Homo sapiens: one gene and its partner. The protein of the gene in region 2 interacts with the protein of the main gene of each other region in a biochemical or structural test. Each region holds a gene or a part of one and is shown on either strand. Other genes may lie near its edges.

The links. The genes of interacting proteins can lie anywhere in the genome.
Region 1: the proteins of KCNQ1 (region 2) and KCNE2 form a complex in vitro, tested with the Homo sapiens proteins (one study listed by BioGRID).

Annotation. Positions count from the first base shown.
Region 1 is NC_000021.9:34,359,687-34,367,008, reverse strand, and holds the start of KCNE2 (potassium voltage-gated channel subfamily E member 2), read right to left. Parts: upstream 3,004-7,322; 5' UTR 2,858-3,003; intron 1-2,857. UniProt on the Homo sapiens protein: Ancillary protein that functions as a regulatory subunit of the voltage-gated potassium (Kv) channel complex composed of pore-forming and potassium-conducting alpha subunits and of regulatory beta subunits.
Region 2 is NC_000011.10:2,447,993-2,455,014, reverse strand, and holds part of KCNQ1 (potassium voltage-gated channel subfamily KQT member 1), read right to left. Parts: intron 1-7,022. UniProt on the Homo sapiens protein: Pore-forming subunit of the voltage-gated potassium (Kv) channel involved in the regulation of cardiomyocyte excitability and important in normal development and functions of myocardium, inner ear, stomach and colon.

The DNA.
Region 1 (7,322 bases), on a different chromosome or scaffold from region 2:
TTTTTCCTTTTTTTTTTTTTTTTTTTTTTTTTTTGAGATGGAGTCTCTTTTGCCCAGGCTGGAGTGCAGTGGCGCGATCTCGGCTTACTGCAAGCTCTGCCTCCCGGGTTTACGCCATTCTCCTGCCTCAGCCTCCTGAGTAGCTGGGTCTACAGGCACCCGCCACGAAGCCCGGCTAATTTTTTGTATTTTTAGTACAGACGGGGTTTCACCATGTTAGCCAGGATGGTCTCGATCTCCTGACCTCGTGATCCGCCCACCTTGGCCTCCCAAAGTGCTGGGATTACAGGCGTGAGCCACCGTGCCCGGCCTTGTTTTCGTTTTTGAATTACCCATGTATTGTGTGCTTATTCATGTGATCCTCAAAACCACTCTATAAACTCCTACCTTCAGGATGTTTAGTGAGATTCAGTAACTGAGTCCCGATGACAGGAGAGCTTGAGCCCCCGGAAGGCAGGGATTGCTTTACTCATCTCTGAATCCCGGGACCCTACACAGCGATGGGTACGTAGCAAATCTTTACTAAAAATCTGTTGAATGAAGGTGTGAATGAATGACAGTTCCTCTGTGGAATTCAACTGGAAACTACCAGAACAGTGATTCTTAATTTATTCTTAAGGGGTGTGGGAATTGGGGGTGGGGGAGGGGCGGTGTTAAAGATCCCTCGAAAAGTAAAATAAAATGATGTGACTTAATTTTTCCCCAAGAAAGTATACCTATGCACGTAGGAAGCTCTACATTCAATTTCAGGGGACTCCTGGGACCCCTAAGGCCCATCCAAGAGTCTCTGCCACAAAAGGTCTTTGAGATGAGGGACTTCAGTGCTGAATTCCACTGGAGTCATTTGGGTTTGTTTCCAGGTGCAGGCATGGCAGCGTTCACCAGCCTTTTAGAGCTAAGCAGCCCCAACTGCCCATTATTTGTTCAACCCTTCTAATGTGAACAAAGGCCCCACTGCTAAGCCGGTCAGGAGGTGCTTTTTGATAAGACTTAATCACAGGGATGAAAGGGCCTATAGGGATTAAATGTCTAAGTGCTCACCCGTGGCCAGGCCAAATAAACAGGATCCAAAAGGGATTTGGCTTTTGAATACGGATGCATGAGATGTGGCCGAGTGGCCCATGCCTGCTCCATGACCACAGGAAAAAAACAAATCACAGTGTGTGAAAGCAGCTTCGTTGAAGGACATTATGCTAAGACATTCCAATTATAAGTGGGTTGATTTCAATTTTTTATTCCCAGAATTACTGTTTAACTGACTGATAGACATCAACCATATTTGGAGGCCAGGCACAGTGGTTCACACCTGTAATCCCAGCACTTCGGGAGGCCGAGGTGGGAGGATCGCTTGAACCCAGGAGTTCGAGATCAGCCTGGACAACATAGCGAGACACCACCTCTACAAAACATAAAAAAATAGCTGGATGTGATGGCACACTCCTATAGTCCCAGCTACTCAGGAGGCTGAGGTGGGAGGATAGCTTGAACCTGGGAGGTCAAGGCTGCAGTAAGCCATGATCACACCACTGCACTCAGCAGTGACAGTGAGACCCTGTCTCAAAAATCAAATCGAAACAAACCATATTTGGTATACATACTTATCCTACCCCTAAGTAGAATATCATAATAGGCATTTACTTTAGTAATGCTAAGACAACTACCATTTATGTTCTCTGGAATTATATGAAATAGCCATTTATATAGGTTAGAAATGGTCAAATATGGGCAATTCATGTGTATCAACCTAGGAGGACCTACATTTCCAGTGAATGCTTCTTGCTGAGTCCTAGCACAGGCTGGGCCCCTGGAGATCATTTAGGCTGGTTTGCTCTCTGATAGGTGGAATAACTATAGCCTAGAGGGCTTAAGTCACCTGTCCAAGATCACAAGCCTCTCAAGTTGGCCACAGTGCCTGGACTAGAACTCACATCACCCAAGCCAGTGTCCAGCACTGACTGTCCTAGCAGAGGTCACACATTCCAATAACTCACTGTTTTCATTGCTGTGACCAGTTGGCTCAACTGGGTACAAGACATAAGATCAAGACCATGATTTGAGCTTACACATGTCATTAGTTGTGCCCTGTCTCCAGGCTACAGAATGATCCCCTAATTCCAGCCATTCCTGTCATGAATGTGTGTTATTCATGACAACAGCAATCAGGACACTATTAGGAAAGTAACACTCATTTGACCCCAAAGTCCAGAGTTTTCTTTTCTTTCTTTTTTTTTTTTTTGAGATGGAGTCTCACTCTGTCGCCCAGGCTGGAGTGCAGTGGCGTGATCTCGGCTCACTGCAAGCTCCACCTCCCGGGTTCATGCCGTTCTCCTGCCTCAGCTTCCTGAGTAGCTGGGACTACAGGCGCCAGCCACCACGCCAGGCTAATTTTTTTTGTATTTTTAGTAGAGATGGGGTTTCACTATGTTGGCCAGGCTGGTCTCGATCTCCTGACCTCAGGTGATCCGCCTGCCTCAGCCTCTCAAAGTGCTGGGATTACAGGCGTGAGCCACCGCGCCCAGCCCCAAAGTTTTCTTTTCTTGAAACATGGTAGATCGCTCACATCACCTGGGCCTATAAAAGGCAGCAAAGTCTTTCATTTTTATATCAAGAAGAGAAAACAATATGATTACCTACGTTTACCATGAATCCTCCATTTTAAAAACTCTCAAAATTTTCATTCTAAGGCAATTAACAAAGAAATGAGTAAGGAAAACACAAGAAGGAAAGAAGGAAGAGTGGATGAGGAGCCAGGCCATGTACCAGGAAAATCATTCCTTTTATCATTTTCTGGAAAAGGCACATAGATAACTTTGTTACTTAATTCCTCAAAAAATAAAGAATGTGTGCTAAGACTTACCTATGCAGTGTGTGGGCAGGATGAAATTCCTTTCCAAAGCCAGGCTGTTCTGAACCTTCTTGCTGGCGTTAGCGAGCTCTCTTCTGGGTTGCACACAAGCCTCAGCCTGCTGGGCACCTTCACCTTACAACCATCTAAGCCCTTGCAACTGCAGTCTGCAATCCTATGCTTTTATGAACCCACATGTTTAATCTAATCGTATGTGGAAAGTTAAATACTAACTGGCAGTTGGAATTCACCTTGGTGCCTGATGGGGTGTGTGCCTCAGGGACTCTGGCTTTGGGCAGAGTGGCACAAGTTCCTGCTCTGGGACCCTTCCTGCCAGCTCCAGCCAGGGCAGGGCCTGGGTACAGTGAACATCTTTCCCCAGAAGAAGTCTTCCTCTTAGGGTAGGCTTGGGGGACAACAGCATTCCCTGCCAGAATACGTGGGAAGGGCTGGGTGGGGTGGCTCACGCCTGTAATCCCAGCACTTTGGGAGGCTGAGGCGGGCAGATCACCTGAGATCAGGAGTTCAAGACCAGCCTTGCCAACATGGTGAAACCCCGTCTCTACTTAAAAATGTAAAAATTAGCCAGGTGTGGTGGCACACACCTGTAGTCCCTGCTACTCTGGAGGCTGAGGCAGGAGAATCACTTGAATCCACAAGGCAGAAGTTACAGTGAGCTGAAATCATACCACGGCACTCCAGGCTGGGTGACAGAGTGAGACTCTGTCTCAATGAAAGAAGAAAGAAGAAGAGGAAGAGGAAGAGGAAGAAGGAAGAAGAAGGAAGAAGAAGGAAGAAGAAGGAAGAAGAAGGAAGAAGAAAGAAGAAGAAAGAAGAAGAAGACGATGTGGGAAGGACAGGGCCCCAGGGAGAGGAGCCAAGAACAGCCATCTCTGGGTGGTTGGTATGGGTTGAGGGGGTCAGTATAATTCCAGGCAAGTGCCGTGTTCTGAAGACGCTAAATAAGCTAGATTCTGGTAAATACTCCTCCACGGGACCACATCCAAATGAGTTTATAACAACATTGTTGTCTTGTAAAAGAGAAACGGGCTGCAAGGGTACTAAGGTACTACATGGAGGAGCTGGAAGTTAAGTCCAACAAAGAGGTTTTGAGGTTTTTGTTTGTTGTTGTTGTTTTGAAACAGAGTCTTACTCTGTCACCCAGGCTGGAGTGCAGTGGCGCAATCATAGCTCACTACAGCTTTGAACTCTTGGGCTTGAGGGATCCTCCTGCCTCAGCCTCCCAAGTAATGGGACTACAAGTGTGTACAAAGCCTGGTTAATTTTTATTTTTATTTTTGTAGAAATAGGGTCTTGCTGTGTTGCCCAGGCTGGTCTCAAACTCTTGGCCGCAAAGGATCCTCCAGCCTCAGTCTCCTAAGGCGGTGGGATTACAGGTGTGAGCCATGGTGCCTGGCCCCCAGCAAAGTATTTAAAGACCTAGCAAGAGCTAAACATACTCTATTTACCAAAAGATCCTTTTCTATCATGGTGGGGACCCTTGGAATTGGGAGAACTGAGTCTTTATATTGGCTATCATTTAGGAGTGCTTACCATGTGCTTTTATCGTATTAACCTCAGGTAATCATTGCCACAACCTGATGTGGAAGGTACTGTGAACTTAGCCAAGGGAATCAGGGCACAAGAGGTCTGATGACATGGAGGTGGAGCCATTTGGATTTGAATCCAATTTAAATGGCAGCCACGGAAGTTACACTCACTCACTCAAAATCACTTCAAGGTCATGTGGGTGGTCATTACTCTGTAACTTGTCTCATGGTTTTGTAAAAGGAAGGTTCACTTTGTTTTAAAATTGGAGTTTCACATTAAATGGTGCTCTGAACCATGTGGCTTGAAGCACACTGGGTGGCAAGAGGAAGATAGCTAAGATTTAACATGATCTACAAATTATTGCAGAGTTAACGTTATTAGGTGTATTTTAAAGAAATACGAGGATCTCTGTAACTCCGCAAAAGCTTCTCATTAACACCATTTGTCCTCATGGGTTGTCTTCACTGAACAAGATAGGCAAACTCAGCCAGGAGGAACACTTTGGTGGTGTAACTGTGTTCACCATGCCTCTGCAGAAATGGAAGCAAAACGTTCAAGTAAGAATTCCGCTAGGAGACGGTGCCACCTGCTGGTGGGAACAGGGAACTGAGGCCAATCTTCTAACTCAGCCCTTGCGGTTTAACTTCACTCTTGAATTCTGGCGCCGAGGAGAGGGGAATCAAAGCAGCGTGTTGTGCTTTGGTAATTAAAGGCAGAACTGGACGGCGATGTGTCATGGAGGCTGGCAAACCAGGTGAGCAAATTACTTACTGTCCCTGGTCTTTGGATTCTTCGTCTGTAAGATAGAGATAAGAGTTCCTGCTCATTTGGCTTGTTATAAAAGTTAAATGTGATCACAGATATATACAGCACTTAGCACAGAACCTGGCACGAGGTAGGATAGTAAAATCTATAAATTGAAATGCAGCAAAATTCATTTCTTGTTTTAATAAAAGCAAATGTAGAATGTTTTACCCATTCAATGAAAAACTAGGTGGGAAAAAACACTTTAAGAAAAAACTTTTAAACAGAAATCACCAGCCGGACATGGTGGCTCACGCCTGTAATCCCAGAACTTTGGGAGGCCGAGGCGGGTGGATCACCTGAACTCAGCAGTTCGGGACCAGCCTGGCCAAAATGGTGAAACCCAGTCTCTACTAAAAATACAAAAATTAGCCAGGCGTGGTGGCACACGTCCGTAATCCCAGCTACTTGGGAGGCTGAGGCAGGAGAATCGCTTGAACCGGGGAGGCGAAGGTTGCATTGAGCCGAGATGGTGCCACTGCACTCCAGCCTGGCCGACAGAGCGAGACTCTGTCTTAAACAAACAAACAAAACCCAGAAATCACCAAATAAGGTGGTAGAAAGATATCTGCTGTGGCATAAATGTTTGTGTCCCCCCAAAATTCATATAGTGAAATTCTAACTCCCCATGTGATATTACTAAAAGGTAGGGCTTTTGGGAGGTGGTTAGGCCAAGAGGATGGAGACCCCGTGAATGCGATTAATGCCCTTTTAAAAGAGGCTACAGGGAGGTTGCCTTCCCCTTTCCACCATGTGAGGTCGCAGCTAGAAGGCACGGTCTATGAATCAAAGAGGGAGACCTCACCAGACACCGCATCTGCCAGTGCCTTGGTCTTGGACCTGCCAGCCTCCAAACTATGAGCAATAACTTTTTGTTATTTATAAGTCATCCAGTTTATAATTTTTACTATAACTGCCCCAATGACTAAGATAATATCTGAATATATCTATAATCACAATATCCTTTAAAATAAGTACCTATTAAAAGAAGTATTATTAAACTGAATAACAAAATAAAATCTAGCTATATGCTTCTTAAAAGATAAACATCTAGGCTGGGGCTGGTGGCTCACACCTGTAATCCCAGCACTTCGGGAGGGCGAGACGGGCGGATCACTTGAACCCAAGAGTTCGAGACCACCCTGGCCAACATGGCGAAACCTCATCTCTACTAAAAATATAAAAATCAGCCAGGCATGGTGGCATATGCCTGTAATCCCAGCTACTTGGGAGGCTGAGGCATAAGAATCACTTGAACCTGGGAGGCAGAGGTTGCAGTGAGCCAAGATCACGCTGCTACACTCCAGCCTGGGTGAAACAGCAAGACTCTGTCTCAAAAAATAAAATACAAAATAAAGATGCACATCTAAAATAAAAACAAATAAAAAGTTGAAAATAAGGTGATGAAAAAACATATCAAGCTAAGGCTAAAATGCAGACATCTAAGAAAAACTGAAATTTCAGGTGATCCATAGGATATTAAATGTCACTACAATTTGATAAAAGAAACAACCTGCGAAGAAGATAGTAAAATCATGGGCTTGTATATGGACTCAAAATATTCAAAGTGAAACAGGCAGATTTACAAGAAATTGAGGCATGCACAATGGTAGGAATTAGGTTTCAGAAACTGATAGATTTTTTTAAAAAGTAAACATATAGAATTGAGTAATAGAATTAATTACCTTTATAAAATAGATGGAGAGAACCCACACCTAACCAACAAATGATGTGCATTCTTTATAAGTGTCCATAAAACGGTTTTAAAAACTCACCATGTGCTGGGTCACAAAAGAAGTCCAACCAAATTTTTAAATATCAGCTTTATGTAGACTGGGTTCCATTACTACAATGCAGTTGAATTATAAATCAGCAAAAATATAGTCTGTACACCTTGATATATCTGAAAACCAAAAAATAAGTATATCATCACGTAACATATGGATAAAGAGGAAAACACATAAATAATAAGATATTAAATTACAAAGGAACTGCCATATATTTGAAAACTTCTGGGATGCAGACAATGTGAACCTTAGAGGCAAATTTATACAGTAAATGAATTCACTAAAAGGAAAAGAGGCTGGGCATGGTGGCTTATACCTGTAATCCCACTGCTTTG
Region 2 (7,022 bases):
AGGTATAGAATCTTATCATCATCGGTGAAGGGAGATGATTTGAGTTCCTCTTTTCCTATTTGGATCCCCTTTTATTTCTTTCTCTTGCCTGATTTTTCTGACTAGGACCTCCAGTATTATTTTGAATAGGAGTGGTGAAAGTGGGCATCCTTGTCTTGTTCCTATTCTTAAGGGGAATGTGTCTCGCTTTTACCCATTCAGTACCACATTTACCATGGGTTTGTCATAGATGGCTCTTATTGAGATATGTTCCTTTGATGCCTATTTTTGTTGAGGGTTTTTTAATGAAGGGATGATGAATTTTATCAAAAGTTTTTTTCTACATCTATTGAGATGATCATACGGTTTTTGTTTTTAATTCTGTTTACATGTGAATCATATTTTGTAAAACCTCCATTCTTGGTGATACCAACACAATTACTTACCTTAACCTGCAATTCCCATGCAGCACTCTTAGAATAATATAACAAATAGTATCACAACAATTATGTGGCCACTGCATGCAGCTCTATTTGTCTTCAGCAGTAACCCGCTAGAAATATGTCACCTGAAATCAGTCCTTCTGGGTGGTTAAGCCACTAATTCAGCACACATTTTTAGGCTCATTTGTTTCATTTCAATTTTGAGGGACTACTTTTTCTGGTTAAGATTTATTTAGGGATTTTTCACCAAGCGATTACGAACAGCTTTTTAAAAATTACGCAAGCTATTGATTTACATGGCTTCAAAGTGAAATCTATAAAACCAGGTACATTCAGAGGCATCTTGATTCCATATGCCACCTCCCCCCCCGCCACCCTTTTGAGGTAAACTTTTAAGATTTGGAGGCTTCCATTGCTTTCGTTTTTAATATACATCCAGACTTGCATCCTCCCCTTTATCAGATGAAGAATAGCTGCTATATTTTTATTCACTGTGCTTTTTCACTTAAAAAGCATCCTGATACGCCAGGTGTGGTGGCTCATACCTGTAATCTAAGCACTTTGGGAGGCTGAGGTGGGAGGACTGCTTGAGGCCAAGATTTCAAGACCACCCTTGCCAACACAGCAAGACCCTGCCTGAAAAAAATAATTAAATAAATCCTGATAATCACTTCATAATAAGAGAGATCTATGCATTCCTTTTTTACAGCTGCATAATATTCCACAAATCTCTGATTCAACCAGTCTCCTACAATGGGCATTTGCAGTTTTCCAAACAGTACTTTCACAAGCAGCCCTGCACACGCAGCTTCTCCTGCCTTTGCCAGTGCCTTCAGGTAGGTTCTGGGGAGGGGGTTGCTGGGTCACAGGTCAGTGAAGACAGTTTTGCTAGATGTTGCCAAATCCCTTCCTCACAGAGTCTACCCTCTTGCATGCCTACCAGCAAATGCCAAAGGATTTCTGCCAGCCAGAAGGGACCTCAGTGACATTTTCCTCGACACCCCTCTCGCCAGGAGTGAAGGCGGCACCTTCTCACATGTTCAAGGTCCCCCTGTGGGTCACTGTCCTGTGAGTGGTATTCACATCTCCTGCTGGCTGTGGGTTTTCTTCTGTTTTCAGAAACTCTTTCTGTAGTAAACAGATTAACCCTTCGTGAAACATCACATCTTCCCCCAGCCTGGCAATTGGCTGTTTCCCATTAAGATTTTTTTTTTTCCCTGAGATGGAATTTCACTCTTATTGCCCAGGCTGGAGTGCAACGGCGTGATCTCGGCTCACTGCAACCTCCACCTCCCGGGTTCAAGTGATTCTCCTGCCTCAGCCTCCCAAGTAGCTGGGATTACAGGCATGCACCACCACGCCCGGCTAATTCTGTATTTTTAGTAGAGACAGGGTTTCACCACGTTGGTCAGGCTGGTCTCGAACTCCCGACCTAAGGTGATCCGCCCGCCTTGGCCTCCCAAAGTGCTGGGATTACAGGCGTGAGCCACCGCACCCAGCCAAGGTTGCTTCTTTCTTATGTGGTCAAACACATAAATCTCCTCCACGCATCTAGCATTCAAGTCATAGAAAAGTTTCTTCGCTCTCAGGGTAAAGAATTCCAGGCGCTTTCTTTAGGTACCCAAGTGGTTTTCTGACCCACTGGGAGTCTATCCTGGTGTGTGATGTGACAAGTGGGTGCAGTCTGGTCACTTTCCACATGGCCACCCACCCACCCCGCAGCACGCATGAAGCCGCCCATCTGTTCCCCACTGGTTGGAGATGCTGCCTCTTTTACGAAACTTCATATACAATGGAGTTACATGCGGTTTTTAAAAAGCTGTTCCATTGGTGATCTGCCTGCCTATAAGGCAATGTCATGCTGTTTTAATTAGCAAAGCTGTATGTTTTATAATATTTGAGCCATCCTAGCCAAGAGCACAGACGTGACTCTTCACAAGAGAACAGCTGGAGACGTCACGGAATAGAATGCCAAGCCCAGGGCCCGTCAAGATCAAACGCTTGAAGCGCATGGTTCCCGGGGCTGCTTAGATATAGCCAGAGGAGGTTCCCGCCCCGTCTCCAGCTGCTCCCCTCTTTGGGGCAGGGTGGGGATGCCTCTGGGAGGGGTCTACCCCTCTCAGTCAGAGCTCCTTCTGCTCCCTCCTCTAAGCTGCCCGGGCTGCTCTGCGTGGAAGTCGAGGACACAGCCCCTGGCCCCAGGGTGGGGTGAGGGGTCCCAGTGCAGCTGGGCTGTCTCCATGCAGAGGAGCATTCCAGGGCCGAAGGGAGTACAGGGGTGGGGGTCCCTGTCCAGCTGCTCTGCCTGTGGTTCCTGCTTTCTGAATCTCTTCAAATCTCTGCCTGGAGCAAGTTCAGCCAGGAGCCGGGGAGAGCTACTCAGAGCACCCTTTCAGTGCGCCCCAGAGTATGATTTTGGAAGGCAGCAGAGAAAGGTGTGCACCTTAGCAGATATGGAGGGAAAGCTAAGAGCCCCCGCCCCCAGGGAACCTGCACTCTCTGGGTGAGGGCAGCCGTAGCTCACCCGCTGCCAGGACGCAGGCACAGACCAAGGCTTTGAGAGCCAACTCTCAAAGGGGACAGTCCTCAGGGTGCTTCCTGGTGGCAAGTGCTAGGTGGGAGTGGGGGTGCCCATGGATACAAACTGGGCCTGAGGCCAGGAATAGTGCACCACCTCACTTGAGACCACAGCATCCTAAGGGCTTCTGGGCATCCTAAGGGCTTCTGGGTGTCCTGAGGGCTTTCTGGGTGTGGCATGAGCAAAGTGGCCAGGCCTAGTTGTCTCATCTGTAAGGCGACCCAAATGTCCTCATCTGTGAGTGGAGGAGCGAAATGGGGAGCAGAGCCCAGGCCCCAGGTCCCAGAGCGGGCAGGGGCCTGTCCTGGAGTCAGCTCCCCAGCCCGGCTCTTCCATCAGGAGAAGTTCCTGCCAGAGGCGGCCAGGCAGATGCCAACAGACTCCAGGCGGCTCATCCTGAGAGTCCGGTGCCGATGAGGGAGCCACGACCCTCCTGGGAGCCTTTCTGCTGGTCCATCCACCCAGTGCCTGGGACCACAGCCAGGTCCTTCCAGTGCTCAGAACCCTCCAAGGGCAATGACAGTGCCGATCCCATGGCCCCGAGCCTCAATCCTCTAAGACAGGGTTCTCCAACCCCGGGTCCGTGGCCTGTTAGGGAGCAGGCCGCACAGCAGTGAGTGAGCGTCAGGTGAATGTGCACGGCCACCTGAGCTCTACCTCCTGTTGGATCAGCGGTGGCATTAGATTCTCACAGGAGCACAAATCCTATTGTGAACTGCGCACACAAGGGATCTAGGTTGCACGCTTCTTATGAGAATCTAATACCTGATGATCTGAGATGGAACAGTTTCATCCCAAGATCACCACTGCCCGGGTGGAAAAATCTTTCTTCCATAAAACAGGTCTCTGGTACTAAAAAGGTTGGGGACTGCTGCTCTACGGGGAACGGTGTTTCTGCAGAAGGGCTCAGGCACCCCCTTGGACCCACCACCCTTAACCTGGATCCTTCTGGAAGCACCATGCCTGCTCAGATGGACCCCACACCCTGAACCAAACATTAGAACTTCCCAGGAGATGGTCGAGAAGTGGGAAGACACCTGGGTCCCATCATGGATCTTCCCCACCTCCAGCCAGGGCCTGCTCCCCAGAGAGAAGCCCCTCCCCAGCCAGCACCCACCCACGTGGGGCTCCCAGAAGAGGGCTGGGCCAGGCAGCAGAAGCCACACCCTATCACATGGTCAGATGCCTCGTGTAAAAGCGGCCCCCTGGACTAGGGTCACGCGGCATCCCTGTGGTCACCCAGCCAGTACCAGAGACACCAGCCGCCTCCCTTTGTCAACCACGATAATTTTGCATCTGTGAGGTCTGGGGTTTCTCATGGTGGTTGGAGGAGCTGCTGGAGAGAGACAGCTACCCACCAGGAAGGGGTGTGGAGGCCAGGACGGTCTCACCGACGTGCCCGCAGGGACCCCAGATGCAAGCAGAGCATGGTGTAGGAGCATCCGGGGCTGGAGTGACCCACAGTGACAGCAATCCCATACTGGCCAGCCCCAAGGCACCTCCCGAGAGTGAAGCCAGACGCTGCCGCCCTCCCCTCTGTAACCAAATCCTTGGGGTCTGGGTCAAAGTGGCCCAGGATGGTGATATTCATTGCCTCATTCTCCCCTCCAGCAGCAGATGTTGGGCTTCTGGAAGCTTCTCTGCGGCATCTCCCCGGGCCGACACCATGCTCTCCCAGCACTGGCCACACACCAGCAACTCGTCTTGGGCATCTGCTGTCTCTCAGCTCTTCCTGGGCCTGGAATGTTCTCCTGGCATCACCGCCCTTGGGAGCTGTCTCCTCCCACAGATGCCTGAGATGAGATTGTCCCAGCCTTGTTGTTCTTGCCCGTGGACAGAGTCTTGAATCACAGCAAGATATCGCAGGGGCCAAAAGCCAGTTTGGAATGTCAGGGCTACGGAGGGCTCGTCCACCTCCCAGACAAGGCGGGTGGAATGCAGGGAACTGGGGGCCCTGCCTAGGGCCGAGCAGGGGCTCAGGACCAGGACGTGTGCATCTGCACCTTGGCTACAGGGACCGGTGGCATTCCCATCGCTGGAAGGCATGAGCTCCCTGGACCCGCTGCATCAGGACCCCTGCGTCAGGACCAGCTCCCTGGACCCGCTGCCCTGTTAACAGCATCCCTAGGACTCGAGGACGCTTGCTCGTGTGAGCAGCTCTGGATCACACTGGCAAGGACGTCAAGTGCAGAAGGAGCAGACTTGAAACCAGCCTAGCAGCAGGAGGGGAATTCTCGGCACCCAACGCCTTTAAAAACGGGGGCATCAGCCACCCGGGTGGAGTTGCCTGGCAACCCCTGTCACTCTGACACCCTCGGTGGGCACGGTGCTCCTGCCCATCTCAGCTGCCCCCAAAGGCACTCAGCTCCGCACAGCCTGTTTCCAGCTCTGGAGCACACATAGGGTGGGTTTGGAGCTGTTCACCCTTCCTGTCCTCTGCAAGACGTGCCACATGCCAGGATGGCACGTGGCAGAACTCATAGCAGCAGCTGACGTGCCAGCTCCCTGGCTCCAACCACCTGACCCCGCACTGGCCGGCCCAAAAGCATCCCAGGCCTTCAGGCCCAGCGGAAGTTCATCCCATCGGTACCCAGGAGTGTCCCCGCAAAGCCCCTCCCTCAGACCCGGCCCTGTGACACAACGCAGCCCGCACGTTATATGCAAAGGTTCCAGTACCTCGCAACTGCCAAGCAAAAAGGGACCCTCCTGCCCCCAGTACCCCAGGGTTGTAGGCTCAAGCTGCGGGCACCATGCCCACAGGGAGCTGTGGCTTCAGTGCCAGGCACGGGTGAATGTTCCCTCCAACCGAGGCACCCTGCACTGAAGGTGCCAGCACCAGGAGCCTGCCACAGAGAATGAGACGCAGACTCAGAAGGCCCAGGACCCTGGCCAAGGCAGCCCAGCCACAGGGCCATGCCCAGACACAAAGCCCTGCCACCTGATCCATGCCCACCAGGCACTGCCCAGGCCACCTGCAAGGACCCAAGTCCCTACCACCCTCCTGATCCCCTGTCCCCACACAGGCTGGGGAGGCCCTTTCTCCCAGGCTCTAGGCTCTTGCCACCTGGACTACCCCCTCCCCAGCTGACGGCCAGGGGTAAGGGATGCCTGTGTTCCCCCCAACTAGTACGAAGCCACAGTTAGGCACTCGACATGTTGGCAAGAGCGGATCTAGAAACACTGGGCCGGGTCTGCGATGTAGGTGAGGGGACCCCAGACAGCCAGGGGATGAGACCAAGGGCTCATGCCCCACAGAAGGTAGCACTGGGAAAAGCCCCAAAAGGAATTCCCAGTTTTCCTGGGAATCTAGGGCTGAGGAGTGGGTGGACAGATCTTAAAGAAGATGGAGAGAAAGAGACCTGATGGCTCAGAGAGCCCCGTCCTCCTCTGTGCCCAGCCCCACCACCTGCCTTGGCCTCTGGCCTCCCTGCCCAGCTGCAGAACAACTGCCCAGCAGCTGCTTCAGACTCCAATGCCAGAGCCTGGAGATAGGAGGGCACTGGAGTCCACAAAGTTGGGTGCTGCACCCTGAGAGCTGGCTCTGCATGGCCTTGTCTTTTGGGGAGGCAGCCAGATCAGCCCCATCCACCTCTGGGACCTGCTTCTGGCTCCATTGTTGATTAACACGCACCCGCGAGGGTTCTGCCAACACCCCTGGAAAGTTCTTGGGAAACAGGGAAAGCCAAGGCTGTAGGAGCGGGGAACAGGGGCTGCTGAGCCAGACTTAGGTTTGAGAGCCTACAGGGGCAGTCTCCATGCACTGCAGGTCCCCCCTCAAATCCCTCTCCTTGGCCACAACCAGGATCTCCAAGCATCTCAGCAACCAGAGTAGATGCCACCTGGATGTCCACACCCCTGGCTAAGGCTCACAGCAAGGGAGCTAGGACCGCTGGGTGCAGCAGGGCTGTATGGACCCCCATCCCCTCAGCTAAGATGGGAGCTGCCCCCAGTGGGGGCGCAAGCAACCACAGATAACTGGGGGTGTTGGGGGCAGGAAGCCTAAGCGGGCAAGAGTTGTGGCC